Homo sapiens: one gene and its partners. The protein of the gene in region 2 interacts with the protein of the main gene of each other region in a pairwise test. Each region holds a gene or a part of one and is shown on either strand. Other genes may lie near its edges. The genes, in order: MYH9, CXCR4, DBN1 and ATP13A2.

Region 1 (7,022 bases), on a different chromosome or scaffold from region 2:
ACTAACCGTGGTGACAGGGCAAAAAGGCAACTAAAGACAATCATCTGTGTATCCCACCCCGTAATGCACACTTTGACAGTGTTCGTCACCGTGGACGTGAGCCCAAGCTGAGCTTCATTTTCTACTTTCTGTCCCCTCCTGTGGGCCGGAAGCCAGTGCCCATGGTGCCACCCCTAATGCGCACCTGCCACTCAAAACCAGTGCCCAGCCTGCCGGTCCATCCCCACCACAGGCAGGAAACACCTTTCCTTTTGTTATTCTCCTGTTACTTCTTTTAACACTAAAGACCTTTGTCAAATAGCCTTTTTTTCCTTTTGCAGATAAATCCGAAATTGAGATTCCCCAAATCAAAGAGAGTGACTGGCTGTGTGCAGCCCGACCACACCAGTAAAAAAATGCCACCAGCAATCAGAGCATCTATGCCCACAACCTTGACCACAATGAAGTTTTAAAGTTTTTGTGGGTTTTTTTTTTACACTTAACATTTTTTTTTTGGCCGGGCGCAGTGGCTCATGCTTGTAATCCCAGCACTTTGGGAGGCCGAGGCGGGTGGATCACAAGGTCAGGAGATTGAGACCATCCTGGCTAACATGGTGAAACCCCGTCTCTACTAAAAATACAAAAATTAGCCGGGCGTGGCGGCGTGCGCCTGTAGTCCCAGCTGCTGGGGAGGCTGAGGCAGGAGAATGGCGTGAACCCGGGAGGCGGAGCTTGCAGCAAGCCGAGATCATGCCACTGCACTCCAGCCTGAGCGACAGAGCGAGACTCCGTCTCAAACAAACAAACAAAAAAAAATTTGTTAAACTAAGGTTATTCTTGTTACATGATATGGCGTATCAGAGCTGTTTTTACGTGTTAATTATTCTTTAATTATTAGTGAGGTGAAGATTTCCAAGTATGTGTCCCACACTCCGGGCTGCTTCTTGGAACCATCGCCCCAGAGCCCAGAAGGCTGAAGGGTGTCAGGACCCGGGTGATTCTGGAAGTCTGCATTAAGTGAGACCTTCTTGAACTCCACCCATGTCTAGGCTTGTACTTGTTTGCTTCTGTGTTTTATGTACCCAGTCATACACCGTTTTGCAAGTTTGCTGTTGGACTATCATGTTTCCACTCACCTCTGAGCCTCTGAGTCTCTGTCAGTGAGATGGGGCTGGAAGCACCCAGGACCTTCCCAGGAGGTGCCACCCTGCCAGGTTCCCGCCCTGGGCCGAGCCCTGGCACCTTCATATGTAGTTGGCTCAGTCGGGTGCCGCCCACCCTCACCTGGGCCCCGCCCACCCTTACCTGCAGCTTCCGCAGCTGTTTGATGGCTTCGTCCCGGTTCTTGTTGGCCGAGTCGATGTGCGCCTCCAGGTCCTTCAGGTCCATCTCCAGCTTCTTCCGGGCGGCCACTGCCATCGAGCGCTGCTTCCTCTCGTCCTCCAGCTCTGCCTCCATCTCCCGCACCTGGGGGAAGGAACATCAACAACTTGGGAAGCTGGACCCACTGGGAGACCCTGCCCTAGCTCTGAACTCAGGAGCCTCAGGCCAGTTCTGCAGGATCCATGGGGCCTCGGGAAACCAGTGGGGATTACTGACCATAAGAACTCTAAGAAAGTGAGTCACTGAACCCCGAGACAGGAGGCTAGAAAGAAGGAATATGGGAGGGGAGGCGTGGTCAAGGGGCCCTAACACAATCCAGGTGGAAGGAGAGAACAGAAGCCTGCGTGAAGCCAAGGCAGCCTTGGGCACCCATGGGGTAGCAGGAGGCCATGCACACCTGTCTGACCAGCTGCTTCTTCTTCTCCTCGCTCTGCTCGTCCCGGCCCTGCAGGTCCCGCTCGAACTGGGCCTTCATGGCCTGCAGGTTGACCTCCAACCGCAGCTTGGCATCTTCGGTGGCCTGCAGCTCGTCCTCCAGCTCTTCCAGCTGCGTCTTCATCTCCTCCACCTGCTGCTCTAGGGCCCGCTTGGACTTCTCCAGCTCGTGGACCTGAGCCCCAGAGAGCCCAAGTCAGGAGCAAAGGGACTGGCAGGTACCTGGGTCTGCGCGACCCGGAGTCTGTGCACACACCGACCCTCTGTGATGACCCCACTCGGGCCCTTCCCAAGACCTGGCTGCCAGGCCCAGGACTCACACTCTTGCCCACATCATCCTTGGAGCTCATAAGGTCCTCCATCTCCGTGCGGAACTGCTTGTTGAGCCGCTCCAGCTCCGCCTTCTGCTCCATGGCTTCCTCCAGGGCCCGGGCCAGCGACAGAGCCTTGGTCTCCTTCTCTCGGGCCTCCGCCTCAGCCCGGTCGCGCTCCTCTGCATACTTGGCAGAGATGGTCTTCTCCTCCGCCAGGAGCTGGGAAAGAGGTGGGCACCATGAGGCTCAGAGCTACGGCCCCCAGCAGGGCAGGGCAGCTGGGCCTAAGCTCCCTGGGGAAGGAGGAGCCCAGAGGCCACGGTGGAGAGGAGCAGGCCTAGGAAGCACAGGCCCAGGGCTGTGCCCAGGACAATACACACAGTCCCGTGCATCCTCATGATGGGATGACTGCCGACTGGAGCAGGCACTACTGCGAACACCATGTTGTAACGTCTGTTTAATTTTCATCACTTACTAATCGCAACCCTTTATGGCACGCTGCCCCTTCCATGAGAGCCCTCCAAACCTGTAAGAGCTTTGGTTCTCCTGAACCACAGCTGGCATTTGGTTGGCACTTTTCACGAAGTGAATGCCAAGCTGGCTGCCAAGAAGCCTGAACCCCATTTGTGGTCTTCTCTAATGACAGCTGCTGTCCCCTGGCATCTGTTCTCTGTGTGCACCCACCTGGCTCTATCCTATTTCCCCACCTTCCCTTCCTTTTGGCCCAAACCTTAATTATCCCATGGGTTGCTGACCATTTCCTAAAGGGCCAGATAGTGCATTCTTTAGAGTATGCAGGCCCTACAGTCTCTGCAGCAATGGCTCAACCCCACTACCACAGCACAAAGCAACCAGAGACAACATGAGAACCATGGAGCGTGGCTGTGTTCAGTCTATCGTTCCCTACAAAATGCAGGGGCCGGATCCGGCTACCACAGTTGGCTGCCCGATGTCTTCTACTGTTCTATCCTGCCCCCGAGTCCACATCCCCCTCAGCTGCTCTCAGATCTTTTGGAATAAGGAAGTGATATGAATGCATAAATAAATCGTTTAAAAGACAGTCAAACCGCAGGAGTTTGAGACCAGCCTGGGCGATATGGTGAGATCCCTGTCACTATGAAAAACATCTAAAAATTAGCTGGGTGTGGTGGTGGTGCACGCCTGTGGTCCCAGCCACTCAGGAAGCTGATGTGGGAGGATCACTTGAGCTGTGGTTGCACCACGGCACCCCAGCCTGGGCAACAGACAGAGACAGTCTCCAAAAAAAAAAAAAAAAAAAACCCAAACTATTTTAAAAAAACCCAAACTATAATTAAATAATTATAATAATGTAATGATATAATGATAATTAAAGTGATTTTAACTCAGTGCTCAATGGAGCCCAGGCTGGAGTGCAGTGGCGTGATCTCGGCTTGCTACAGCCTCCACCTCCCAGCCGCCTGCCTTGGCCTCCCAAAATGCCAAGATTGCAGCCTCTTCCCGGCCGCCACCCCATCTGGGAAGTGAGGAGCGTCTCTGCCTGGCCGCCCATCGTCTGGGATGTGAGGAGCCCCTCTGCCTGGCTGCCCAGTCTGGAAGGTGAGGGGTGTCTCTGCCCGGCCGCCATCCCATCTAGGAGGTGAGGAGCGCCTCTTCCCGGCCGCCATCACATCTAGGAAGTGAGGAGCGTCTCTGCCCGGCCGCCCATCGTCTGAGATGTGGGGAGCGCCTCTGCCCCGCCGCCCCGTCTGGGATGTGAGGAGTGCCTCTGCCCAGTGGCGACCCCGTCTGGGAGGTGAGGAGCATCTCTGCCCGGCCGCCCCGTCTGAGAAGTGAGGAGACCCTCTGCCTGGCAACCGCCCCGTCTGAGAGGTGAGGAGCCCCTCCGCCCTGCAGCCGCCCCGTCTGAGAGGTGAGGAGCCCCTCCGCCCGGCGGCCACCCCGTCTGGGAAGTGAGGAGCGTCTCCGCCCGGCAGCCACCCCATCCGGGAGGGAGGTGGGGGGGTCAGCCCCCCGCCAGGCCAGCCGCCCCGTCCGGGAGGTGAGGGGCGCCTCTGCCCGGCCGCCCCTACTGGTTAGTGAGGAGCCCCTCTGCCAGGCCACCACCCCGTCTGGGAGGTGTACCCAACAGCTCATTGATAGCGGGCCATGATGACAATGGCGGTTTTGTGGAATAGAAAGGGGGGAAAGGTGGGGAAAAGATTGAGAAATCGGATGGTTGCCGTGTCTGTGTAGAAAGAAGTATACATGGGAGACTTTTCATTTTGTTGTGTACAAGAAAAATTCTTCTGCCTTGGGATCTTGTTGATCTGTGACCTTACCCCCAACCCTGTGCTCTCTGAAACATGTGCTGTGTCCACTCAGGGTTAAATGGATTAAGGGCGGTGCAAGATGTGCTTTGTTAAACAGATGCTTGAAGGCAGCATGCTCTTAAGAGTCATCACCACTCCCTAATCTCAAGTACCCAGGGACACAAACACTGCGGAAGGCCAAAGGGTCCTCTGCCTAGGAAAACCGGAGACCTTTGTTCACTTGTTTATCTGCTGACCTTCCCTCCACTATTGTCCTATGACCCTGCCAAATCCCCCTCTGCGAGAAACACCCAAGAATGATCAATAAAAAAATTAAAAAAAAAAAAAAAAAAAAAAAGACAGTCAAACCAGTTCATTAGAGAAAATCTGAAAAATGTAAAAAATCAGAAAGGAAAAGTCACTCCTCAACCCATCGCATGAAGACGCCCTCTTCCGCTGGCCTTCTCCCTGGGACCCTCAACAAGCCAGAGCCTGAGGGTCCTCTAAGCACTGGCCCCGCACGGCCCCTCCCCGGCGAGACCCTGAGGGAGCCCAGGCTTTCTCTGATGGGCCCTTTGCTTTGGACTCAGTGCTTGAAGGAGAGGAAATGCAAAGGATGGGGCCAACGGCCACACACCTGGTCAAACTTCTTCTGCTTCTTCTCCAGGTTGCACGCGCTCTGGCGCTGGTGGTCCAGGTCCACCAGCAGGTCGTCCAGCTCCTGCTGCAGCCGCGTCTTGGTCTTCTCCAGCTTGTCGTAGGCGGCCACCTTCTCCTCGTGCCGCTGGCTCAGGCCCTCCAGGTCCTTCTGGAGCTTCCTCTTCACCTCCTCAGCAGTTTCCAGGCACCCCACACTGTCCTCCATCTTCTTTTTCATGTCGGCCACCTGGGCAGGAGCAAGGAGTAAGCAGATGCCCGAGATGGCACCTGCTCAGGTGGCACACCCGTCCCTGGGGCAGCTGGGAGCCTGCCTGCCACACCGTGGAAGGGGCACCAGGGATCTGCCCAGTTATGAAACCGCCTCCCCCAGTCACTTCCCTCTCCACAGGGGCGAGACAAATGGAGCTTCTGCAAAGGGGCATCTGTCTACTGTGTGAAGCCCGGGGGAGGCTGACCCCCAGGCCCGCTGTGGGGGCTCCCAGCCCACATCCACACCAAGCCTCTTGCTCTACGGAGACTGCTCCCAGAGAGCAGGGCCAGTGCCCTGTAGGGTGTCCACGGGGTCCCCATCACCCAGCCCCATCCTTGCACTTGGAGATAAACCCACAATCAGGCACGCTCGCGGGCTACTCCTACCCTGACTGTGGAATGGACTCCCAGCCCATCCCGAGGTGGTTCAGGCCTTCTGGCCTGGCACATGGAGGCCCAAGATAGGATCTAGAGCAGGGGCTCTGAAACCATATTAGGCTACGGACCCCTTCGCAGTCTAGAGAGGCCAAGGGACTCCTTCTCATGACAATGTTGTAACAGGCATGAAATAAACATGGGATCAGCAGGGCAACCAGTACAGAAAAATGCAGTTGTCACACATTCTAAAAAACCATGGCTCAGGAAGCCACGTGCTGCTAGATAGCACATCAGATAACAAACAGCGCAGGCCTGGGACCCATGAGGCCAAGGAGCTCGGCCACAACCCTGACAGGGTAACTGGCCATTTCTACAGATGATGACGGCACAGGGACTGCCACCACCATGGCTTGCTGCCTACATCCATAATGGAAGCAATGCTGAATTTCAGCTAAAGACTGGTGAAAATAAAGGTGTAAAATAGTGAAAATAGTGGTGTCCCCCATCTAAGTCCACAGATCCCTGGATTCCTTTCCTTGAGAGCACTGATGTGGGAGAGCACGGTTGGCTTCCCAGGGGGAGAGCAGCAATGGGCCGGCCCAGCGGGCAGGGCTGTCCTGCAGTGCCCAGGCCAGTGCCCGGCCAGCAGCTCCCCAGCCTGCAGAGTCCGGCCGGTCCCCCAGGCCTCCAAACCTGGGCATGGAGGGTGGCGATCTGCTTCTCCAGGTTGTGCTTGGCCTCCTCCTCCTCCTCCAGCTGCTCCCGGAAGGAATTCTTCTCGTCCTCCACCTGCTTGAGCTTGGTGCTCAGGCTCAGCTTCTGCCGGTTCTCCTCCTGCAGCAGCTCCTACTCGCGGGTTGAGAGGGGTGCGGGTGCTTAGGAGGGTGGTGTCCAAAACCCAGGAACCCCACACCCTTGAGGAGAGGGAGGAGCTGGTCCTGCTGATTTAGGGGATGGCCACGTAAAGACCTGGAGGGAGCTGGGAGGACGCAGAGACCCACCCACAGGATGAAGCAGATGAAGGAGAGGATGGGCAATCCGATGGGCTCTGAAGCTAATGTTGCGTGGACACAGAGGCCTTTCTGGAGGGGTCCACCTTCTGGGAACCTGGCGCCACCCCTACCTGAGTGTCCTGCAGCTGGGACTCCAGCGCGGAGAAGTCCTTGGTGAGCTTGCTGGACTTGCTGTCGGACTGGCTGAGAAGCCCGGTCACGTTGTCCAGCTCCACCTGCACCGGGCGGGGAGACACAAAGGACCATGGACCCACCCCCACTGCTCCTGCCCCACCTCATCTCCTTTAGGTAAAGCTGGACCTGAGTCACAAGCTGAACCATGAGGGTCTGAGGAGCCAGTT
Region 2 (7,078 bases):
TGACATTTGATACCATTGTCTCTTTGAGATTTGTAACCCTGTGTTAGAATTACTTGCGCCTTGAGAAATAGTCTCCGTTTTTGTTTTTTTTTTTTAATCACTTAGGAAAACATTAACTTTCTCTAAGTATCCCTTACTACTGTCAAGGAAGTTTGCACTTTTTTCCTCTTTCAGAAACAAAAGCGATCAATTTTTTTAGAGACAGGAGAGGGGCCAGCGAAGGAACCAGAAGACCCTGTGTATTCTGAAGGCCTTTAATGCCTCCTGCCATCCACCTCCTCCTGGCACCTCCTCCTTTCTCTAACCTCCTGCCATCCACCACTGGGAAAAGGTCTGTTCCTAAGCTTTCTGCCTAGCTAACATGAAGCCAATTTAGGGACAGAGTACAGCTTTTCATCACACACACACAGATACACACACTCACACACAAATCAACCAGCTGCAGAGCGAGCAACAGGAGGTGGCAGGATGCTTGCCACTGTGTCACTGGATTTGTAAGCATCCCCTCCAAACTGTGGCCAAGGCTAGTTATTCCCTGGGCTAAAGCCAACCTGAGAAGTTGGGGACCCTGCCAAATCCCTGACAGCCCCTAAGCCTGACTCTGTTGCCAGAGCCACACAGGAAAGTCATTCATTCTTTTAAGAAAGGTTCAGTAAAAGATTAAGGAGCCCAGTATTTGTTCAGCAATGGGCTAGCTGGATAGAGGATATCTGGGCATTCACTTTAAGGAACCTAAAATATTGGAGGGATAGGAGTATGACATATACTCATTTAAAAGTTGAGTAACATCACAAGGGATGCCACTCAAAGCAGTATGTACGTAAATGCCAAATGACCTGGGCTTCAGAGCCAGACAGACTGGGTGCAGATCCTCATTCCGGGGTCACAGGCCAGTTCCTCATCTTTCCAGACCCTAATTTCTTTACCATGTAATAAAAGTAATGGCACCTGCCTTGTAGAGTTATTGAGGGGATTATATGAGGTCAGTTGCACATAACAAGCGCTCAGTAAATGCTTGAGTTTTGTTTGTTTTTTAAAGAACATCATAGAATAGTTGAGAATAAGGTTTAGGTAGCCCAGTGGAAATAGAAGTTTAAGATTAGCCCATTGGAAAACAAGCCTTCCTTGAAAGGGGAAAGGACTATTGTGAAAAAAGTCTGACATCTTAGTAGATACTTTAGAAGTGGAAACATACATGAAGGAGGCCTTCTGATTCCCTTTTTGTCATACAATTTGTTGGCTTTTTTATGAATATGAAAATGATTCATGTCTATTACAGAAAATCTGGAAAGCATAGAAAAACCCCAGGAAGAAAGCAAAAATCAAATATAATTCTGCACCAAGGAAAACGCCTATAAACATTTTGGTTTTCCTCCCTATATTTTCCAAATGCATATTTTAACATAACTGAGATCACACTATATACACAATTCTGAATCCTGCCTTTTGCACTTAATGTTTCATAAGTATTTCCCCATGTCACTAAAAATTCTTCACAAATAACATTCGCGATGTCCATATGGAATTTCAGATGTGGATGAACCAAAATCTTGTCAACTATTCCACTAACAGTGGTTATTTAGGGATGTTCAGACATTTCACTATTTAAAAAAAAATGTTTCCACAAATACCTTTGTGGCATAAGTTTTTATGAGTGGAGTTACTGTTCTGAAGTTCCTGCTGAATAGAAAATGCTTTCCAGTGAGGCTGTCCCAAGCCACATTCCCATCAGTGACAAGCGAGAGACAGCTGGTCTTTTCAAATCCGGAGACCAAATATTATCTTTGAAAAAAAATGGATTTTTGCCTAATTTGGTAGTCACCAAATAGCATCTCATTGTTCTTTTAATTATCTGCTTCCTTTTAGTAGAGATCCCTAAAAAGATCTGAAAGGAGTCTTCAGATAAAGGAAGGAGCTTTCTTTTGTCTGTCTACAATCAACAAATATTTATTATGCAAACCATTTTGCTCCGAGTTTTCTCCTCTTTCCCTTTTTGGACAGATTTGGGAGATCTCACCTTTCAGGTTTTAGACATCGTGCAGGGAGGAGTTTTGAGGTAGGGTGCAGCTTACGGTCCAGGATAAAACATACTGATTCTGCCACTACCAGGCTTTGTGAAAAGCAAGTCATGAAAACGCTCTGAAATTCTAGACCTTCAGTAGATAGGATCTACCGTGTCTATAAAAATATGAAGATCCTTAAGTTTTATTAAAGATTCGAAAAAAGTAAAAGTGTTTTTACGGTTTTATTTTCATTTTTATTTCTTACCGTTATCGTTTATTATAAAGGATATTATAAAGGATACAGATGAAGAGATACGTAATGCAAGGCCTGTGAGAAGGGGCGTGGAGCTTCCGAAACCTCTTCCAGCCACCACCCTCCAAGAACCTGGAGTTTCTTTTTTTTTTTTTAATTCTACAAATGTAATATTAGAATTGATTTTATCTGGCCATTAGTGTGTGTCCTAACTCGTTCGTTTCTGAGAGTCCCATCTCCCGGCCCGGATATCATCTTTCCTGTGTCAGTGAAAGTGCAGAGTAGATGAGAACCTTTAACCACCAACATTAGGGAGGGGTCCCAGACAAAGGGGGAAAGTCATGCTCTGTAGAGAAAAGGTTCCCTGCCTCCGAACTACCTCTGGAACACTCCAGACTGAAATGTTTCCTCTTTTGATATAGAAAAGAGGGATCGTGTGTAGAGTGCAGTCTGGGCAATCCCTCTCCTCGGGACCATTTCGGGGTGGGGGCCTCTGGGGTCCGTGTCGCGACGCACGCGCCTCGGTCCCAGCTATCTCCGCAGCGGCCACCCCGCCTGCGGACGCAGTTTCTCGGCCCCGCCCCACACTCGCTCCCCCGCCCCACCCAGTCTCCGCGCCGGAGGGAAGTGGCGCGAGGGGGAAAGCACTGTCTGCGCGCCCACTGCAAACCTCAGCCAGTCTGAGATCGCTTTAAACGTCTGACCCCCACCCCCACTCCGCCCCGCCCAGTTCTTCAACCTAATTTCTGATTCGTGCCAAAGCTTGTCCTCTGCTCAAAATCGTGGAAGACGCCGAGTATGGGGACCGAAGACCTGGGTTCAAGCCCGGCTTGGAATCCCTGCCCATCCCTGGCATTTCATCTCTCCGGGCTTATTTGCTGGTTTCTCCGAATGCGGGCCTTGTCTGGTTCACGCTGGATCCCCAACGCCTAGAACAGTGCGTGGCACGCAGTTCGTCCTTCTATAAATATCGGACTAAATGCATCTCTGTGATGGTAATACCCACACGGTGTTGTGAGAATGAATGAGTGATTCTGTGCAAGTTCCTAGTGATCTGTTACAAAAAGTACTGGTCGCTAAATTACTCTTATAATAAAGCATACTTTTAGGATAATAAAGCACTATTCGCGAATTGGTTACCGCTATTATGAAATTACTGAGCAATACATATCTACATCTGATCAGTCTCCAGAATTATGCCAAATCCTACCTTCTTCTGAAAGTATCTCCTAATTATCTGCACCTGACCCTAGTGATGCTGTGAATGTGCAAGTATAGCTACATCCTCCGAAGGAAGGATCTTTACTCCTTTTACCTCCTGAATGGGCTGCGTCTGCTGAAAGCGCGGGGAATGGCGTTGGAAGCTTGGCCCTACTTCCAGCATTGCCGCCTACTGGTTGGGTTACTCCAGCAAGTCACTCCCCTTCCCTGGGCCTCAGTGTCTCTACTGTAGCATTCCCAGGTCTGGAATTCCATCCACTTTAGCAAGGATGGACGCGCCACAGAGAGACGCGTTCCTAGCCCGCGCTTCCCACCTGTCTTCAGGCGCATCCCGCTTCCCTCAAACTTAGGAAATGCCTCTGGGAGGTCCTGTCCGGCTCCGGACTCACTACCGACCACCCGCAAACAGCAGGGTCCCCTGGGCTTCCCAAGCCGCGCACCTCTCCGCCCCGCCCCTGCGCCCTCCTTCCTCGCGTCTGCCCCTCTCCCCCACCCCGCCTTCTCCCTCCCCGCCCCAGCGGCGCATGCGCCGCGCTCGGAGCGTGTTTTTATAAAAGTCCGGCCGCGGCCAGAAACTTCAGTTTGTTGGCTGCGGCAGCAGGTAGCAAAGTGACGCCGAGGGCCTGAGTGCTCCAGTAGCCACCGCATCTGGAGAACCAGCGGTTACCATGGAGGGGATCAGTGTAAGTCCAGTTTCAACCTGCTTTGTCATAAATGTACAAACGTTTGAACTTAGAGCGCAGCCCCTCTCCGAGCGGGCAGAAGCGGCCAGGACATTGGAGGTACCCGTACTCCAAAAAAGGGTCACCGAAAGGAGTTTTCTTGACCATGCCTATATAGTGCGGGTGGGTGGGGGGGGAGCAGGATTGGAATCTTTTTCTCTGTGAGTCGAGGAGAAACGACTGGAAAGAGCGTTCCAGTGGCTGCATGTGTCTCCCCCTTGAGTCCCGCCGCGCGCGGCGGCTTGCACGCTGTTTGCAAACGTAAGAACATTCTGTGCACAAGTGCAGAGAAGGCGTGCGCGCTGCCTCGGGACTCAGACCACCGGTCTCTTCCTTGGGGAAGCGGGGATGTCTTGGAGCGAGTTACATTGTCTGAATTTAGAGGCGGAGGGCGGCGTGCCTGGGCTGAGTTCCCAGGAGGAGATTGCGCCCGCTTTAACTTCGGGGTTAAGCGCCTGGTGACTGTTCTTGACACTGGGTGCGTGTTTGTTAAACTCTGTGCGGCCGACGGAGCTGTGCCAGTCTCCCAGCACAGTAGGCAGAGGGCGGGAGAGGCGGGTGGACCCACCGCGCCGATCCTCTGAGGGGATCGAGTGGTGGCAGCAGCTAGGAGTTGATCCGCCCGCGCGCTTTGGGTTTGAGGGGGAAAACCTTCCCGCCGTCCGAAGCGCGCCTCTTCCCCACGGCCGCGAGTGGGTCCTGCAGTTCGAGAGTTTGGGGTCGTGCAGAGGTCAGCGGAGTGGTTTGACCTCCCCTTTGACACCGCGCAGCTGCCAGCCCTGAGATTTGCGCTCCGGGGATAGGAGCGGGTACGGGGTGAGGGGCGGGGGCGGTTAAGACCGCACCTGGGCTGCCAGGTCGCCGCCGCGAAGACTGGCAGGTGCAAGTGGGGAAACCGTTTGGCTCTCTCCGAGTCCAGTTGTGATGTTTAACCGTCGGTGGTTTCCAGAAACCTTTTGAAACCCTCTTGCTAGGGAGTTTTTGGTTTCCTGCAGCGGCGCGCAATTCAAAGACGCTCGCGGCGGAGCCGCCCAGTCGCTCCCCAGCACCCTGTGGGACAGAGCCTGGCGTGTCGCCCAGCGGAGCCCCTGCAGCGCTGCTTGCGGGCGGTTGGCGTGGGTGTAGTGGGCAGCCGCGGCGGCCCGGGGCTGGACGACCCGGCCCCCCGCGTGCCCACCGCCTGGAGGCTTCCAGCTGCCCACCTCCGGCCGGGTTAACTGGATCAGTGGCGGGGTAATGGGAAGCCACCCGGGAGAGTGAGGAAATGAAACTTGGGGCGAGGACCACGGGTGCAGACCCCGTTACCTTCTCCACCCAGGAAAATGCCCCGCTCCCTAACGTCCCAAACGCGCCAAGTGATAAACACGAGGATGGCAAGAGACCCACACACCGGAGGAGCGCCCGCTTGGGGGAGGAGGTGCCGTTTGTTCATTTTCTGACACTCCCGCCCAATATACCCCAAGCACCGAAGGGCCTTCGTTTTAAGACCGCATTCTCTTTACCCACTACAAGTTGCTTGAAGCCCAGAATGGTTTGTATTTAGGCAGGCGTGGGAAAATTAAGTTTTTGCGCTTTAGGAGAATGAGTCTTTGCAACGCCCCCGCCCTCCCCCCGTGATCCTCCCTTCTCCCCTCTTCCCTCCCTGGGCGAAAAACTTCTTACAAAAAGTTAATCACTGCCCCTCCTAGCAGCACCCACCCCACCCCCCACGCCGCCTGGGAGTGGCCTCTTTGTGTGTATTTTTTTTTTCCTCCTAAGGAAGGTTTTTTTTCTTCCCTCTAGTGGGCGGGGCAGAGGAGTTAGCCAAGATGTGACTTTGAAACCCTCAGCGTCTCAGTGCCCTTTTGTTCTAAACAAAGAATTTTGTAATTGGTTCTACCAAAGAAGGATATAATGAAGTCACTATGGGAAAAGATGGGGAGGAGAGTTGTAGGATTCTACATTAATTCTCTTGTGCCCTTAGCCCACTACTTCAGAATTTCCTGAAGAAAGCAAGCCTGAATTGGTTTTTTAAATTGCTTTAAAAATTTTTTTTAACTGGGTTAATGCTTGCTGAATTGGAAGTGAATGTCCATTCCTTTGCCTCTTTTGCAGATATACACTTCAGATAACTACACCGAGGAAATGGGCTCAGGGGACTATGACTCCATGAAGGAACCCTGTTTCCGTGAAGAAAATGCTAATTTCAATAAAATCTTCCTGCCCACCATCTACTCCATCATCTTCTTAACTGGCATTGTGGGCAATGGATTGGTCATCCTGGTCATGGGTTACCAGAAGAAACTGAGAAGCATGACGGACAAGTACAGGCTGCACCTGTCAGTGGCCGACCTCCTCTTTGTCATCACGCTTCCCTTCTGGGCAGTTGATGCCGTGGCAAACTGGTACTTTGGGAACTTCCTATGCAAGGCAGTCCATGTCATCTACACAGTCAACCTCTACAGCAGTGTCCTCATCCTGGCCTTCATCAGTCTGGACCGCTACCTGGCCATCGTCCACGCCACCAACAGTCAGAGGCCAAGGAAGCTGTTGGCTGAAAAGGTGGTCTATGTTGGCGTCTGGATCCCTGCCCTCCTGCTGACTATTCCCGACTTCATCTTTGCCAACGTCAGTGAGGCAGATGACAGATATATCTGTGACCGCTTCTACCCCAATGACTTGTGGGTGGTTGTGTTCCAGTTTCAGCACATCATGGTTGGCCTTATCCTGCCTGGTATTGTCATCCTGTCCTGCTATTGCATTATCATCTCCAAGCTGTCACACTCCAAGGGCCACCAGAAGCGCAAGGCCCTCAAGACCACAGTCATCCTCATCCTGGCTTTCTTCGCCTGTTGGCTGCCTTACTACATTGGGATCAGCATCGACTCCTTCATCCTCCT
Region 3 (7,022 bases), on a different chromosome or scaffold from region 2:
ACGTGAAGAGAACTACATAGGCAGAGGCTTCAGGGTGAGCCCTGTCCAGAACCCTGCTTGGGTCAGGGAGCCGTCCAGTGTGTCCCAAGTGTGTGGTGTGGACAGGGTGGTCCAATGGAAAGGCAGGCTGGAGGGTTTGAACTGGGGTATGGTTTCTGCTGGGGGAGAGCTGCGGCTGGAGCAGGAAGAGGTGGCCGGAGGTGGGGAGCCAGGGGCTGAGGATGGAAGGCACCCCGGGGAGCCTAGGCAGGCCAAGACAGGTCCTCTCAGAGGGAGGCTTGATGTCTACAGCAGTCTCTAGGAACTAGGGTCCCTGGGCTCTGCATTAGTTTCTCATCAGTGCATGGAGAGAGACAGAGCCTGCTTCTCCCAGGGCCCTTTGTTCCCGTGGTGGGTTAGGGCAGCAGGACAGGTGGTGGGCCAGCTGTGCTGGAAGCATCTGTCAGGGCCAGGCTGGGGCTGGGGGTAACAGTTGGACCAGGAGCTCCCAGCCCCACAGCCCACCTGTGTTCCTTCCTGGAGGTAGGAAGCCGGGAATCCAGGAAGGGGAGGGGCTGAGGCCATTTGGCCCTGGCCACAACCTCCTGAGACGTCCCCTCCATCCCTCCCGCCTTCATTTCCTTTGTCCCTTCACTTCTGTCCTTTCTCTTCTTCCTCCTCTCCTGGTTTCTCCCTCTGCTTCTCCCCTCCTCTTTCTCTTCTCCCTTGCCCTCCCTTTCTGCCTCCCCTCCTCACAGCCCCAGCCTCCTGCCTTGGCACCTGGGGAATAGGAGTTTGGAGAAGGGGTTGAGAGCCCTTTCAAACTTCAGGGACAAGGCCCTTCCTCCTAGGCCCCGGCTCTCCTCCCTCCCAGAGGGTCCTCAGCCTGGGCCTGCATGGGGTGATGGAGGAGGCATCTCTGCCTTCCCTTCTGTGCAATGGTTGCTCTGTCACCGCAGCCTATCAAAAGGAGCCAGGGCACACAAAGCTAGGGAGGAGGAGGAAGGAGGAAGGCCACCAGGTCAGCTTTCTGTTAGAGCTCAGACAGAAGGAAAGGCCAGCAGTCTCAGGAAGCCTCAGCCAGGACTGAGGCAGCCTAGGGGCTGGAAGGCCTGGAGCTCAGGCTTGGCCACCCCGGGGCCAGAGTCTGGGCGAGAGTGACTGCAGTGACCTCATCCCCATTTCAGAGAGGCGGAGATTGAGGCTGAGGGCGGGTCCCCAGGGTCCTTTGTGTTCAAGGAGAATGCAGTTGGGGTGGGCCAGTCGTGTGCCAATTGCAGGGTTGCCATGGTTACTGGGGGATGCCCAGAGCTGTTGGGAGCACCAGGTTCTCTCTTCTCCTCCTCCCTCCCCGGGGGAGGGGCAGCGGGGACCAAGGCACGTGCCAGGTAAGTTCCTGGCACTAGCCAATGGGGGATGAGGATCCTGGTAGCCAGGGAACGGTAACCAAGGAACCGTCGCCTTGGAATCTCCATCACACACCCGCTCCACTGGGTTGTAGGCTGCCAGGGCCAGGGCCGGGATGCTGCGCACTGAGCTCGACCAGCCAGCAATTTCTCCCCTCACTGCCTGCGCCCCCCTGACCCAGGCCTCCAGCAGTACCCTGCTGGGCTCCCGCCTGAACCGATGCCTGGCCCTGTTGTCATGGCTACAGCAGGAGCCCTCCCCGTTCCTGTCCTACCCACTCCATGTCCCTCTCCCTCCCCAGAGCCGTCCCCACCCAGAATTGGCGGCCTGGGCCCTGACAGTTTGACAGCCACCCCTCCCTCTCCCCAGGGCTCTGTACACATATGAAGATGGCTCCGATGACCTCAAGCTTGCAGCATCAGGAGGTAGGAATTCCAGCCATTCCCTCGCCGCCTTCTCCACCCCCTCCTCCTGGTTGTTTTCTTCCCCACCCACCTGGCTGTAGGCCACCTCCCTGCCTGCACCCTGCAGCCCCACACTTGTCTGGATCTGGCGGGTGTCCTTCCTCCAGTCATCCCTGTGTCCCCAGGGTGGGGAGGAATCTCAGAGCCTTGTTGAATGTTGGACTTCTGAGGCTGAGCCTCCAACAGGGAAAGTGACTTATCTGAAGCCACACAGCTGGGACACTTTGGGGGAAGGGCCCTATTCACCGCCTTCCCCAGAGCCAGAAGGCTTGATTGTGCCTCTGGGCACTGGCACCTGGTGAGACATGATGATGTGTGAAGAATGAGACCTGAGTGTGAAGAACAAACACTTCCTCAGTCCTACCCCCAAATCAGGCCCTGCAGGAGTCACAGGCAAAGCTACATCCCTGTGCGCCACCACCCCCACACATACCAACACAAAACTGGGACCCACAGACCCCAGAGGCCAGAAGACCCCTGGGGGTGCCTGTGGAGGCCTGGAGGAGTCTTTGCTTTGAGTTCCAGGCTCTTTTTGGGAAGGGTTTAGGAGGCAGAGAGACCTGACACTCTCCTGATTACCCTAGAAGGGGGCTTGCAGGAGCTTTCGGGACACTTTGAGAACCAGAAGGTGATGTACGGCTTCTGCAGTGTCAAGGACTCCCAAGCTGCTCTGCCAAAATACGTGCTCATCAACTGGGTATGCGGCCGGGGCTGGGGAAGGGGGCTGAGGGCCCAGAGCTGCTCATCAACTGGGTATGCGGCCGGGGCTGGGGAAGGGGGCTGAGGGCCCAGAGCTGCTCATCAACTGGGTATGCGGCCGGGGCTGGGGAAGGGAACTGAAGGCCCAGAGCAGTCGCCCTCCCCGTCGGCCCTCTGACACCCGTGGAGAGGGAAGCCCACCCTCTTCCCACCCCGGGGAAGATGCACCCTATCGTGTAGGGCCCCCCTTGTCCTTTCCTGACCCCCTCTTTGCTGGGTACTTTGCAGGTGGGCGAAGATGTGCCTGATGCCCGCAAGTGCGCTTGTGCCAGCCACGTGGCTAAGGTGGCGGAGTTCTTCCAGGTGCGTGTCAGGGGCCAGCGCTCTTGGGGGTGGGGACAGCCACCAGGGTCTGCGTGCTGGGGTGGGGATGGCGGGAGGATGGTGCCGCCTGAGCACTGCCGTCTTCTTGCGGAAGGGTGTCGACGTGATCGTGAACGCCAGCAGCGTGGAAGACATAGACGCGGGTGCCATCGGGCAGCGGCTCTCTAACGGGCTGGCGCGACTCTCCAGCCCTGTGCTGCACCGACTGCGGCTGCGAGAGGATGAGAACGCAGAGCCCGTGGTTAGTGTGTGTTTGGCACCCGTGGGCTCTGCCTGCGTGGCCTGGTGCCCGAGTCTGGCCTGCCCGGTCCCTCTTAGCTCTCACCCTTTAGGTGTCGGGGGTTCCTGGGGCATTCAGCCTGCTTATGCTGGGTCCTTCGACACTGCAGGGCACCACCTACCAGAAGACGGATGCAGCTGTGGAAATGAAGCGGATTAACCGAGAGCAGTTCTGGGAGCAGGCCAAGGTATGGAACCCTGAGCCCGGCCTGGCTGAGCCACCCCTCATGGACCCCATGGGGCAGGTCTGAGTCCCTCACTGCAGTGGCATGGCCCATGCCACGTGCCCCGCCCCCAGCGCTGGGTTAGGGAGGGGCTGGAGGGGCAGGGTCCAGGCGCCTAGGCTCGGGGCCTACCCTTGTTCGCACCGGGGCTTGCAGAAGGAAGAAGAGCTGCGGAAGGAGGAGGAGCGGAAGAAGGCCCTGGATGAGAGGCTCAGGTTCGAGCAGGAGCGGATGGAGCAGGAGCGGCAGGAGCAAGAGGAGCGCGAGCGGCGCTACCGGGAGCGGGAGCAGCAGATCGAGGAGCACAGGTGAGCCTGCCCGCCCGGAGCGCTCCAGGGGCCCCCGGGCGCACCCTGACGGGTGCTGGCTGCTTATCGTTCCAGGAGGAAACAGCAGACTTTAGAAGCGGAAGAGGCCAAGAGGCGGTTGAAGGAGCAGTCTATCTTTGTAAGTTCTTTGCCAAGGCTCCCGGTCTCTGGGTCAGGGAAGTGAGAATGGTCCCTGTGTTCCTGGGCCTTGTGGGGAGATCAGTGGCTCAGGGACAGTGGTGGCTGTTCTGGGGAGCTGCATGGGCACAGGGTGCCATGGAGCATGAGGCCTGGCACCTCATCACGTGGGGCTCTGGCCTCTGGCCGTGGAAAAAGACTACTTTGGAGAAGCTTGTGCTCTAGATTGGAAGAGAAACTCCATCTAGACCCAGACCCTCACTGACCAGGCTCCCCCTCCCCTGCCCTGGGGTTTCTCGGCGATTAGACACTGTTCTGCACTCTGAGGGGCCACAGGAGTGAGGCAGGCGGCATGGGTGAGCCTGGGCCAGTGCTGAGCATCTGCAGGCAGTGTGTACCATCTCCTTGGGAGCAGCATCTCCCTGGGAGCAGCCCCTTTGTTCCAGGGGTACTGTCTGAATCTCCACACATTGGGAATGGCCCGTAGGTCCTGTGGATTGGTCCCTGAGAATCACAGCAGAGTCACATCTCCATGCTTTGAATTTAGTATTTTGGAAATAGCTAATGTCATTCAGGACTGAGCATGGCTCAGTTCAGGAAGGGAGGTGGGTTGATACTCATCTGGATTGGGACTGTAATGGGCAGATGCATGGCTGTGGGGACTCAAACGGGCTCCGGAGTCACCCACAGGAGGCTGAGAGAGAGGAGGCAAGACAGTCCTGCAGGCAGCAGCATTAAGTCACTCCAGTCACATCTGCCCTTGGATGGGGTGGGGATGATGTGTGGCTGGTAAGCTCCATCCTCAGTCATTCATTCAACACACACCTGCCACCTGCCACATAAAGAACATGGTGGAGAACGAGCTGGGTAAGATCTTTTTTTCATAAGTTGATTCATGTATTTTTTTTTTTTTTTTTTGAGATGGAGTCTCACTCTGTCGCCCAGGGTAGAATGCAATGGCGTGATCTTGGCTCACTGCAACCTCCATCTCCCAGGTTCAAGCGATTCTCCCGCCTCAGCCTCCTGAGTAGCTGGGATTACAGGCGCACACCATCATGCCTAGCTAATTTTTGTGTTTTTGTAGAGACTGGGTTTCACCATGTTGGCCAGGATGGTCTTGAACTCCTGACCTCGGTTGATCTGCCCGCCTCGGCCTCCCAAAGTGCTGGGATTATAGACGTGAGCCACCGCGCCTGGCCACATGTATGTAACTGTGGCAAAATACATAAAATGTACCATTTCAGTCATTTTAAAATCTGCATTTCATTAAGCGGCATTAAATTCATTCACATTGTAGGATAACCACCACCACCATCCATTAAACACAAATTCTGCCCTTCCCCACTCGCCAGCTCCTGGCAACGACCATTCCACTTTCTGTCTCTATGAAGTTGACTACTCTGGAGACTGCCTATCAGTGGAATCGCACGGTGTTTGTCCTTTTGCGTGTGGCTTATTTCACTTAGCATGATGTCCTTAAGATTCATCCATGTTGTAGCATGCATCAGAATTTCCTTCTTTTTGAAGGCTGAATCATATTCCATTGTATGGATATACCACATTTTATTTATCCTTTCAGAGTGAGGTTTTTTAAAATTTTTTTATTTTTTAAATTTTTTTGAGACGGAATCTCGCTCTGTCGCCCAGGCCGGAGTGCAGTGGCGCCATCTCAGCTCACTGCCAGCTCCGCCTCCCAGGTTCACACCATTCTCCTGCCTCAGCCTCCAAGTAGCTGGGACTACAGGTGCCCGCCACCACGTCCGGCTAATTTTTTGTATTTTTAGTAGAGACGGGGTTTCACCATGTTAGCCAGGGTGGTCTCGATCTCCTGACCTCATGATCTGCCCACCTCAGCCACCCAAAGTGCTGGGATTACAGGCGTGAGCCACTGCACCCGGCCTGCCTCCCAGGTTTAAGTGATTTTCCTGCCTCAGCCTCCCAAGTAGCTGGGATTACAGGCGCCCACCACCACGCCTGGCTAATTTTTGTATTTTTAGTAGAGATGGGGTTTCACCATGTTGGCCAAGCTGATCTTGAACTCCTGACCTCAGGTGATCCACCCGCCGGCCTCACAAAGTGCCGGGATTACAGGCATGAGCCACCGCACCCAGCAGATAAAGTTTATTATTTATTTATTTATTTATTTATTTATTTATTTATTTATTTATTGTCTTTTTAGTAGAGATGGGGTTTCACCATGTTGGCCAGGATGGTCTCGATCTCTTAACCTCATGATCTGCCCTCCTCGGCCTCCCAAAGTGCTGGAATTACAGGTGTGAGCCACCTCACCCAGCCAAGTTTATTTATTTATTTATTTTTATTTTTTTGAGACAGAGTCTTGCTCTGTCGCCCAGGCTGGAGTGCAATGGCACAATCTCAGCTCACTGCAACCTCTGCCTCCTGGGTTCAAGCGATTCTCTTGCCTCAGCCTCCTGAGTAGCTGGGATTACAGGCGTGCACCACCATGCCCAGCTAATTTTTGTATTTTTAGTAGAGACAGGGTTTCACCGTGTTGGTCAGGCTGGTCTCGAACTCCTGACCTCGTGATCCACCTGTCTCGGCCTCCCAAAGTCCTGGAATTACAGGCGTGAGCCACCGCACCCTGCCTGATAAAGTTTATTTATTTATTTATTTATTTTTATTTATTTATCTTTTTTAAGATGAAGTCTCACTCTTGTCCCCCAGGCTAGAGTGCAATGGCGCCATCTCAGCTCACTGCAACCTCTGCCTCCTGGGTTCAAGCGATTCTCCTGCCTCAGCCTCCCAAGTAGCTGGGATTACAGGTGCACGGCTCCATGCCCGGCTAATGTTTGTATTTTTAGTAGAGACAGGGTTTCACCATGTTGGCCAGGCTGGTCTCAAACTCCTGACCTCAGGTGATCCTCCCACCTCGGCCTCCCAAAGTGCACTGCACCCAGCCCTGATAAAGTTTATTTTTTTGCTAACATTTCAAACATACACACATGCAGGTAGACAGAATAGTGTTGTGAACCCCCTGAGCTGATTTATTTTCACCAGTTATCAACATTTCAGGTAAAGTCTGAAGGAGCTTACCATTATTTTATAGTCCCATCTGGCCCTTCAAGTATAGTTCACGTGAGAGTGACAGTGGACATTCTAGCAGGTCAGTGTGGTACCCT
Region 4 (7,022 bases), on a different chromosome or scaffold from region 2:
CCGGGATTCCAGGCATGAGCCACTGCGCTGGGCCCCCTCCCCAGTTTAAAAGCGCTCTGTGGCCCCCGACAGCCTCTGAATGTCACCTAGCCTCTGTCAACCAGGCCACTGCCTACCCGGCCCTGTCCTGCTCCACCACTCCCTGTGCTCAGGTACGCAGCACATCTGTGCCACGCCACTCCCTGTGCCCCAGGCACACGGTACATCTGTGCTATGACACTCCCACCTTTTACCCTTGCTTCTCCTCGACCTGCCCCTCACTGAGGTCACTGAGGGACCTGCTCAGGGGGCTTCCTTGACTGCCTTCTCTCTAAGGAAGTGTCCCCATCTAGAACCCATCAAGCTATCCCACTGGCTTCCTTCCTAAAACCCACTGCCCACTCCTCAGCCCCAGCAGCTCCTTTGTGCACTCCTGGATCACTTACTTTGGTGGGGGACACACACACTCCAGTGACCACAAGGATGCCTGTGTTGGTCACTGCTGGGCCCCAAGGGTTGGGAGCAGCACGGGATGCACACTAGGGCCCCAGGTCCCCACCAGTAATTTTTTTTTTTTTTTGAGTTTTGCTCTGTCACCCAGGCTGGAGTACAATGGCATGATCTTGGCTCACTGCAACCTCTGCGATTCTCCTGCCTCAGCCTCCCGAGTAGCTGGGATTACAAGCATGTGCCATCATGCCTGGCTAACTTTTGTATTTTTAGTAGACGGGGTTTTGCCATGTTGGTCAGGCTGGTCTTGAACTCCTGACCTCAAGTGATGTATCTGCCTCAGCCTCCCAAAGTGCTGGGATTACAGACGTGAGCCACCGCGCCCGGCCCCCCACCAGTTCTTGAACACATGAATACATGATTCTAGACATTTCATCTGCCAGACCGTGAGCCCAGTGAGGGCAGGAGTGGGATGGGGTGGATCCTCTGGGGGTTTCCATCCCTAGACAGGACCTGGCATCCTGTGGGTGCTGCTGAGAGAATAACGCGGGTGTGGAGGCCTCACTGGGGCGCCTGTGGCTGTCCCGCTCCCCTGCACCAACCCCACCTGCGGCCCCACCTTGTCGAAACACACCAGCTGCAGCTTGCCCCCCAGGTTGATGCGCAGTGGGTGGATGCAGAAAATGCCCTGTCTCCGCAGTCGGCTCTGGGCGTAGAGCGTGCACACAGTCATGGCAGCAGGCAGGGCAGGTGGCACCACCACGGTCACCAGGTCGAGAGCCCGGATTACAATCTCATTCAGAGGCACCTGGCAGGGGGCACCATGAATGTGAGCACCTGGCTGGTTGGCCCCTGGGCCCTGCTGGCAGCACCCCCCACCCCACCCCCAAGGCTTACCCGGTTTCGGTAGAGGATGAAGATGCTGTAGATGGTGCCGAGGAGAGCTGTGGGGACAGCGAAGGACTGAGTGGGATTTGGGACCCAGGTGGGGGGGGCTATGGGCAGAGGAGGGTGCAGGGGGCCACTCACCCAGGACAGAGAGGGCAGCCACAAACTTCATGCTGTGTTTATAGAACTTGAAGTTGATGGGCCGGGGGTGCAAGATGGAGCTCACCAGGCCCCCTTTTGCCGTGCAGAACCCTGGGGAGGAGGCGGGGACCCCAAGGCAGGGAAGCCAGGGTGAGGGCAGGCCTTCCCCACCCCTAGCCCTCCCGACCCGTGCCTCTGGAGTTGCAAGACATGATGTTTGTGAAATTAGCCATCAGCAGTGTGGAGTCCTAACAGGTCTGGCCCGGCTCTTGTAGGCTTTTTAAGGGCTTTAAACAAGGAACTAGTGGATAGCATCTAAACACTGGGTGGTTCCACTGAAAATCCAGACACAGGGAAGGCTCCTGCCTGCCCGCTACATCCCTGCCCGCTCCAGCACTGTAACCCCGGCGGCTCCTCCAGATCTTGCAATGCTTGGCCTTAGTCTGGCCCAACTTCTGCTAAGATGGGAATGCTCAGACCCCAGATGGGGGGCAACTGGCCCGAGGTCCCACAGCAGGGCAGCAGCAGAGGTGGGCGTGGGGTCCAGGGTTCCAGGTCCCACCCTGCCTCACTCCACCTCTCCCAAGGGTGCTGAGCCCGGGATCTCTCTCAAGCCCAGCCTCCCGGCTCATACCTGTGCGGGTCACCACTGCCAGGACGTGCGGTCCCACATAGGCCCGGGCCTGCAAGATGAGGGTCCCGCAGAAGAGTGTGTGCCGCCGGTGTGTCTCTGCACAGTAGGGCCCCAGCCCCTCCGGCAGTGCCGTCTTCAGCACTGGAATGCTCTCTCCTGGTGGGGAACGTGGTGTGAGGACCACTCCACACCCCTCCCTCCCACCAGCAAACCAGGAGTTCTGTGTAGAATTGTCCCACAAGCTCTAAGTCTCAGTTAACTCTGTAACCAGGTGTGAACAAGAAATCACAGCCCCATTTTACAGAGAGGAACACTGAGGCTCAGAGAGGACGGAGATATAAAGGCACAGGGAGACACTCCTGGAAGCAGGTGGCAGCCAGCTCCCTGGAACCAGCGGGGGGGGGTGGGTCAGACAGAGCATGTGTGGGCATCATGTGTGCAGTGGGGCAGGGTGGGGGAGTCGTTCTCTTTCTGCTGGAATTATTTTATAACATGCATGGAGTGCTTTTCTAACTCCAACCAACAGAAATATTTACAAGGGGCCAGATGCGGTGGCTCACGCCTGTAATCCCAACACTTTGGGAGGCTGAGGTGGGCAGATCACTTGAGGCCAGGAGTTCGGGACCAGGCTGGCCAACATGGTGAAACCCTGTCTCTACTAAAATACAAAAATTAGCCGGGTGTTGTGGTGGGCATCTGTAATCCCAGCTACTTGGGAGGCTAAGGCAGGGTAATAACTTGAACCAGAGAGGCGGAGGTTGCAGTGAGCCGAGATCGTGCCACTGCACTCCAGCCTGGACAACAGAGTGAAACTCTGTCTCAAAAGAGGAGGGGAGGGGAGGGGATGGGGTAAGGAAGGGGAGGGGGAAGGAGGAGGGGGAGGGGAGAGAAATATTTACATGGAGGGGGCAAATATTTCCATGAGTTGGAGTGAGAAAAGCACTGCATGCTCGCCATGGCCCTGTGAAGTCCTGGGCAGGCTGCCTAGCAAACAGTGGCACTCCCTTACTGAATGCCTGCAGGCTGGGACTATTGAGCACCTACTGTGTGCACATTCCTGCAAGGGAGTCAGACAATCCTGCCATGTCTGCCTCACAAGAGATGAGCAGATGAAGTATGTGTGGACAGTTTGTGGAGGGCAGGGCTCAGGGCGTGTGCCCACAAATCATACTGATCACAATTACTACTTTTTTTTTGTTTTCTGAGACGGAGTCTTACTCTGTCACCCAGGCTGGAGTGCAGTGGTGCGATCTCGGCTCACTGCAACCTCCACCTCCTAGGCTCAAACGATCCTCCCACCTCAGCCTCCCAAGTACCTGGGACGATAGACGTGCACCACTACACCTGGCTAATTTTTTGTATTTTTGGTAGAGATGGGGTTTCAACATGATTTCCAGGCTGTTTTCGAACTCCTCACCTCAGGCAATCCACCCACCTCTGCCTGCCAAAGTGTTGGGATTACAGGTGCGAGCCACTGCGCCTGGCCTACGATTTGTGATACAAATACAATGCCAGCCAGAAAACTTCCCTGGAAAAAAACCACTATCCTGTGGTTTTTAGTAAACTCTCTCCAGTATCTACCACCAAAATATAACACATCTCAGAGAAAGAAATACTTGCACACATCAAGAGACACAGGACAAAGCTGCTCCTGTGGCGTCCTTTGCAATGGCTGGAAAATCACATTCTAAATACTCATGGCGAGCGGGCCGGTTGAGTCAGTTACGATACATCCGTATTGTGGACTCTCATGCAGCCATGAGGTGGGGCCATCCGTGCTTGTGGAAGGATGCCAGGAGAAAAAGCAAAGTATGGAACAATACACAGCATACAATCCCACGTTCAGAACAAAAGGAGAGGCAAATCAGCCCATGTGCACACACGTAATGCAGAAAAAGGCGTGGAAGACACCTCACACCCTTCACAGTGGCTGCCCTGGGGAGGGGAAGGGAAGGGGACTGTGGGGTAGTGAATGGGGACCGCAGTCTCTCACTCTGGGAGAGGGCTTCCCACTCTCCTGTGCCATCTGGAATCTTTATGACCTGAAGGTGGGCACTGGTATAGAAACAGCTCAGATGCAGCCAGGTGCTATGGTTCATGCTTGTAATCCCAGCACTTTGGGAGGCTGGGGCGGGCAGATCACTTGAGGTCAGGAGTTCAAGACCAGTCTGACCAACGTGGTGAAACCCCATCTCAACTAAAAATACAAAATTAGCCGGGTATGGTGGCGCACACCTGTAATCCCAGGTACTTGGGTGGCTAAGGCAGGAGAATCGCTTGAACCCAGGAGGTGGAGGTTGCAGTGAGCTGAGATCGCACCATGGTACTCCAGCCGGGGCAACAAGAGTGAAACTCCATCTCAAAAAAAAAAAAAAAAAAAAAAAAAGGAGAAATAGCCCAGATGCACTGGGTGGCTGGCCATTTATGCTGCACCTCTCACGCTCCTAAGCACTTTGCACAACTCTGTCCAGGAGGAGTGACTGACAGCCATCTTACAGAAGAAGGAACTGAGGCACGGAGATGATACGTGGTAACGGCCCAGGGGTGTGAGGTTAGCAAGTCCTAAAGCTGGGATTGTTGCTTGAGAGAAAAAGGAAGAGGAGGCGGAGCGCTGGCACACGCCTGAAATCCCAGCACCTTGGGAGGCCGAGGTGGGCAGATAACCTGAGGTCAGGAGTTCAAGACCAGCCTGGGCAACATAGTGAAACTCCATCTCTACTAAAAATAAAAAATTAGCTGGGCGTGATGGTATGCACCTGTGGTCCCAGCTACTCAGGAGGCTGAGGCACAAGAATCACTTGAACCTGGGGGGTGGAGGCTGCAGTGAGCTGAGATCATGTCACTGCACTCCAGCCTGGACAACAGAGTGAAACTCCGTCTCACAAAAAAACAAAAAAGGAAAAGGAAACTCAAATGAAAACTTTTGCCGCAGGGCAAAGGGTTGGATGGCAGGGGAGGAAGGAAGCTGCAGGCCAGGGGCTGGGGGCTCACCTGTCAGAGAGCTCTCATTCACCATGCACTCGCCGGCCACCAGGGCGGCATCACAGGGCATCAGCCCACCCTCCTGGGGCAGCACCAGGCAGTCTCCGGGCACTAGCTCACTGGAGTCCACCCACTCTTCCTCTGCAGGCAGGCAGGAGAGGAGCTCAGCTAGGTGGGGCCAGCCCCAGCCATGCCCCCCCACCCTCCCACTCCTGCCCCCGCCCCCTGGGCCCTAGCTCCTCACCTCCCCCTGGCCGGCACACGCACACCCGCATGGACAACTTGACCATGTCCCTTAGAGTCTGGCTTTGCTGTGGGCAGGGGACAAGAGGGCCGTGAGTGGGTGGGGGCCCCTGGGGACCCACCTGTCCCGTCCCCACCCACCTTATGGCACTCACCTTTCTGGTCTTGTACAGCGACAGGCAGATGGAGATGGAGGAAATGAGGAAGATGCACAGGGCGTACCAGTAGTAGTGGTCAGCCAGCCACAGCGCGATGCTGAAGGCCTGGAACCCATAGTAGGGGTTCAGTGCCTGGGGGAGGGGCGGGAGGCAGCGTCAGGGCCGCGTCCCCCAGGGCAGCCCAGCCACAGGCTGGGTCTCCTGTGCCCATGGGAGCAGAGGGCCCAGTGGCTGCCAAAGGACTGGAGCCAGGCCTTTCTCCTGGTCAATCCCATCCCCACCCAACCAGACATCCCCAGGGCCCTCAGTTTCTCCGCTCTAAAGAGGACAAGGGTTTATGACCAGCCTGGGCAACATGGCGAAACCCCATATCTACAAAAAATACAAAAATTAGCCTGATGGGGTGGCCTGTGCCTACGCTCCCAGCTACTCAGGAGGCTGAGGTGGGAGGATCACTTAAGCTGGGGAGGTGGAGGGTGCAGTGAGCTGAGATCGCGCCACTGCACTCCAGCCTGAGTGACAGAGGGAGACCCTGTCTCAAAAAAAATAAACAAATAAATAAATAGGATAAGGGTATTTACTGAACCCCCACTACACGCCAAGTGCTTTATCTAAGTGTCATACAATGGCAATGACAATTCTACAAGGCCGGTACCACCATTAGCTCCATTCTACAGATGAGGAAACCAAGGCATGGACAGGTGAAGCCACTGGCCTAAAACCACATAGTTCCAGCCAGGTGCGGTGGCTCATGCCTATAATCCCAGCACTTTGCAAGGCCGAGGCAGGTGGGTCATCTGAGGTCAGGAGTTTGAGACCAGCCTAGCCAACATAGTGAATCCCCGTATCTACTAAAAATACAAAAAAAAAAAAAAATTAGCTGGGCGTGGTGGCAGGCGCCTGTAGTCCCAGCTATGTAGGAGGCTCAGGCAGGAGAATCACTTGAACCCAGGAGGTGGACATCGCAGTGAGCCGAGATCACGCCATTGCACTCCAGCCTGGGCAACAAGAGCAAAACTCTGTCTCAAAAAAAAAAACAACAAACAAAAAACAAAAAACCACATAGCTTCTAAGTGACAGACTGATTTCTATGGGGCCAGACTCAAAGATCTCTTTCATGGTGCCTGCCCCCGATCAGAGGGCTGGGATGTTCACACTTTATTCTAGTTGTGTCCAGGTCACTGGCTTCTCTTTGTCCCTGTGTGACCTTGGCCATGTCACAGCCTCCAACTGAAGCTTGGATTTCTCAGGTGTGAACAGTGCAGTCCCAGGCCCAACCCACGGGACTGTTGGGAGCATGAAAGTGGAGGACGCACAGAGAGGACCCAGGCTCTAGGGCGTGTCTCTGGGGACCCCATAGATGCTCAGGCTGCGTGGATTTGCCTCTTGGCCTCCAATCCCTATGAGTGGGGCCCCAATCTGTGACCCAAGCCTTGGGCAGAACCTCCAATTCCTGGACCTGGTCTCTCTGGCTAGGCTGACTGCGGCAGGTTCTGAGATGACGATCCACTATGGAGAAGGGGACAGCTGGTCTGGTTGCCACCGTA

Evidence for each region.
Region 1: the proteins of CXCR4 (region 2) and MYH9 interact in binary tests that used the Homo sapiens proteins (3 or more experiments, as listed by UniProt).
Region 3: the proteins of CXCR4 (region 2) and DBN1 interact in binary tests that used the Homo sapiens proteins (3 or more experiments, as listed by UniProt).
Region 4: the proteins of CXCR4 (region 2) and ATP13A2 interact in a two-hybrid assay, tested with the Homo sapiens proteins (one study listed by BioGRID and IntAct).

The regions. Positions count from the first base shown.
Region 1 is NC_000022.11:36,286,968-36,293,989, forward strand, and holds part of MYH9 (myosin-9), read right to left. Parts: intron 6,897-7,022; coding exon 6,792-6,896; intron 6,515-6,791; coding exon 6,362-6,514; intron 5,268-6,361; coding exon 5,019-5,267; intron 2,331-5,018; coding exon 2,118-2,330; intron 1,973-2,117; coding exon 1,760-1,972; intron 1,447-1,759; coding exon 1,285-1,446; intron 1-1,284. UniProt on the Homo sapiens protein: Cellular myosin that appears to play a role in cytokinesis, cell shape, and specialized functions such as secretion and capping. Required for cortical actin clearance prior to oocyte exocytosis. Promotes cell motility in conjunction with S100A4.
Region 2 is NC_000002.12:136,115,128-136,122,205, reverse strand, and holds the start of CXCR4 (C-X-C chemokine receptor type 4), read left to right. Parts: upstream 1-4,056; 5' UTR 4,057-4,145; coding exon 4,146-4,160; intron 4,161-4,336; exon of another isoform or gene 4,337-4,677; intron 4,678-5,232; exon of another isoform or gene 5,233-5,463; coding exon of another isoform or gene 5,464-5,730; intron 5,731-5,970; exon of another isoform or gene 5,971-6,266; coding exon of another isoform or gene 6,267-6,293; coding exon 6,294-7,078.
Region 3 is NC_000005.10:177,463,633-177,470,654, reverse strand, and holds part of DBN1 (drebrin), read left to right. Parts: intron 1-1,755; coding exon 1,756-1,811; intron 1,812-2,434; coding exon 2,435-2,547; intron 2,548-2,837; coding exon 2,838-2,912; coding exon of another isoform or gene 2,913-3,027; coding exon 3,028-3,174; intron 3,175-3,322; coding exon 3,323-3,400; intron 3,401-3,592; coding exon 3,593-3,744; intron 3,745-3,819; coding exon 3,820-3,883; intron 3,884-7,022. UniProt on the Homo sapiens protein: Actin cytoskeleton-organizing protein that plays a role in the formation of cell projections. Required for actin polymerization at immunological synapses (IS) and for the recruitment of the chemokine receptor CXCR4 to IS.
Region 4 is NC_000001.11:16,994,928-17,001,949, forward strand, and holds part of ATP13A2 (polyamine-transporting ATPase 13A2), read right to left. Parts: intron 5,608-7,022; coding exon 5,473-5,607; intron 5,386-5,472; coding exon 5,319-5,385; intron 5,216-5,318; coding exon 5,084-5,215; intron 2,249-5,083; coding exon 2,093-2,248; intron 1,570-2,092; coding exon 1,459-1,569; intron 1,374-1,458; coding exon 1,327-1,373; intron 1,238-1,326; coding exon 1,049-1,237; intron 1-1,048. UniProt on the Homo sapiens protein: ATPase which acts as a lysosomal polyamine exporter with high affinity for spermine. Also stimulates cellular uptake of polyamines and protects against polyamine toxicity.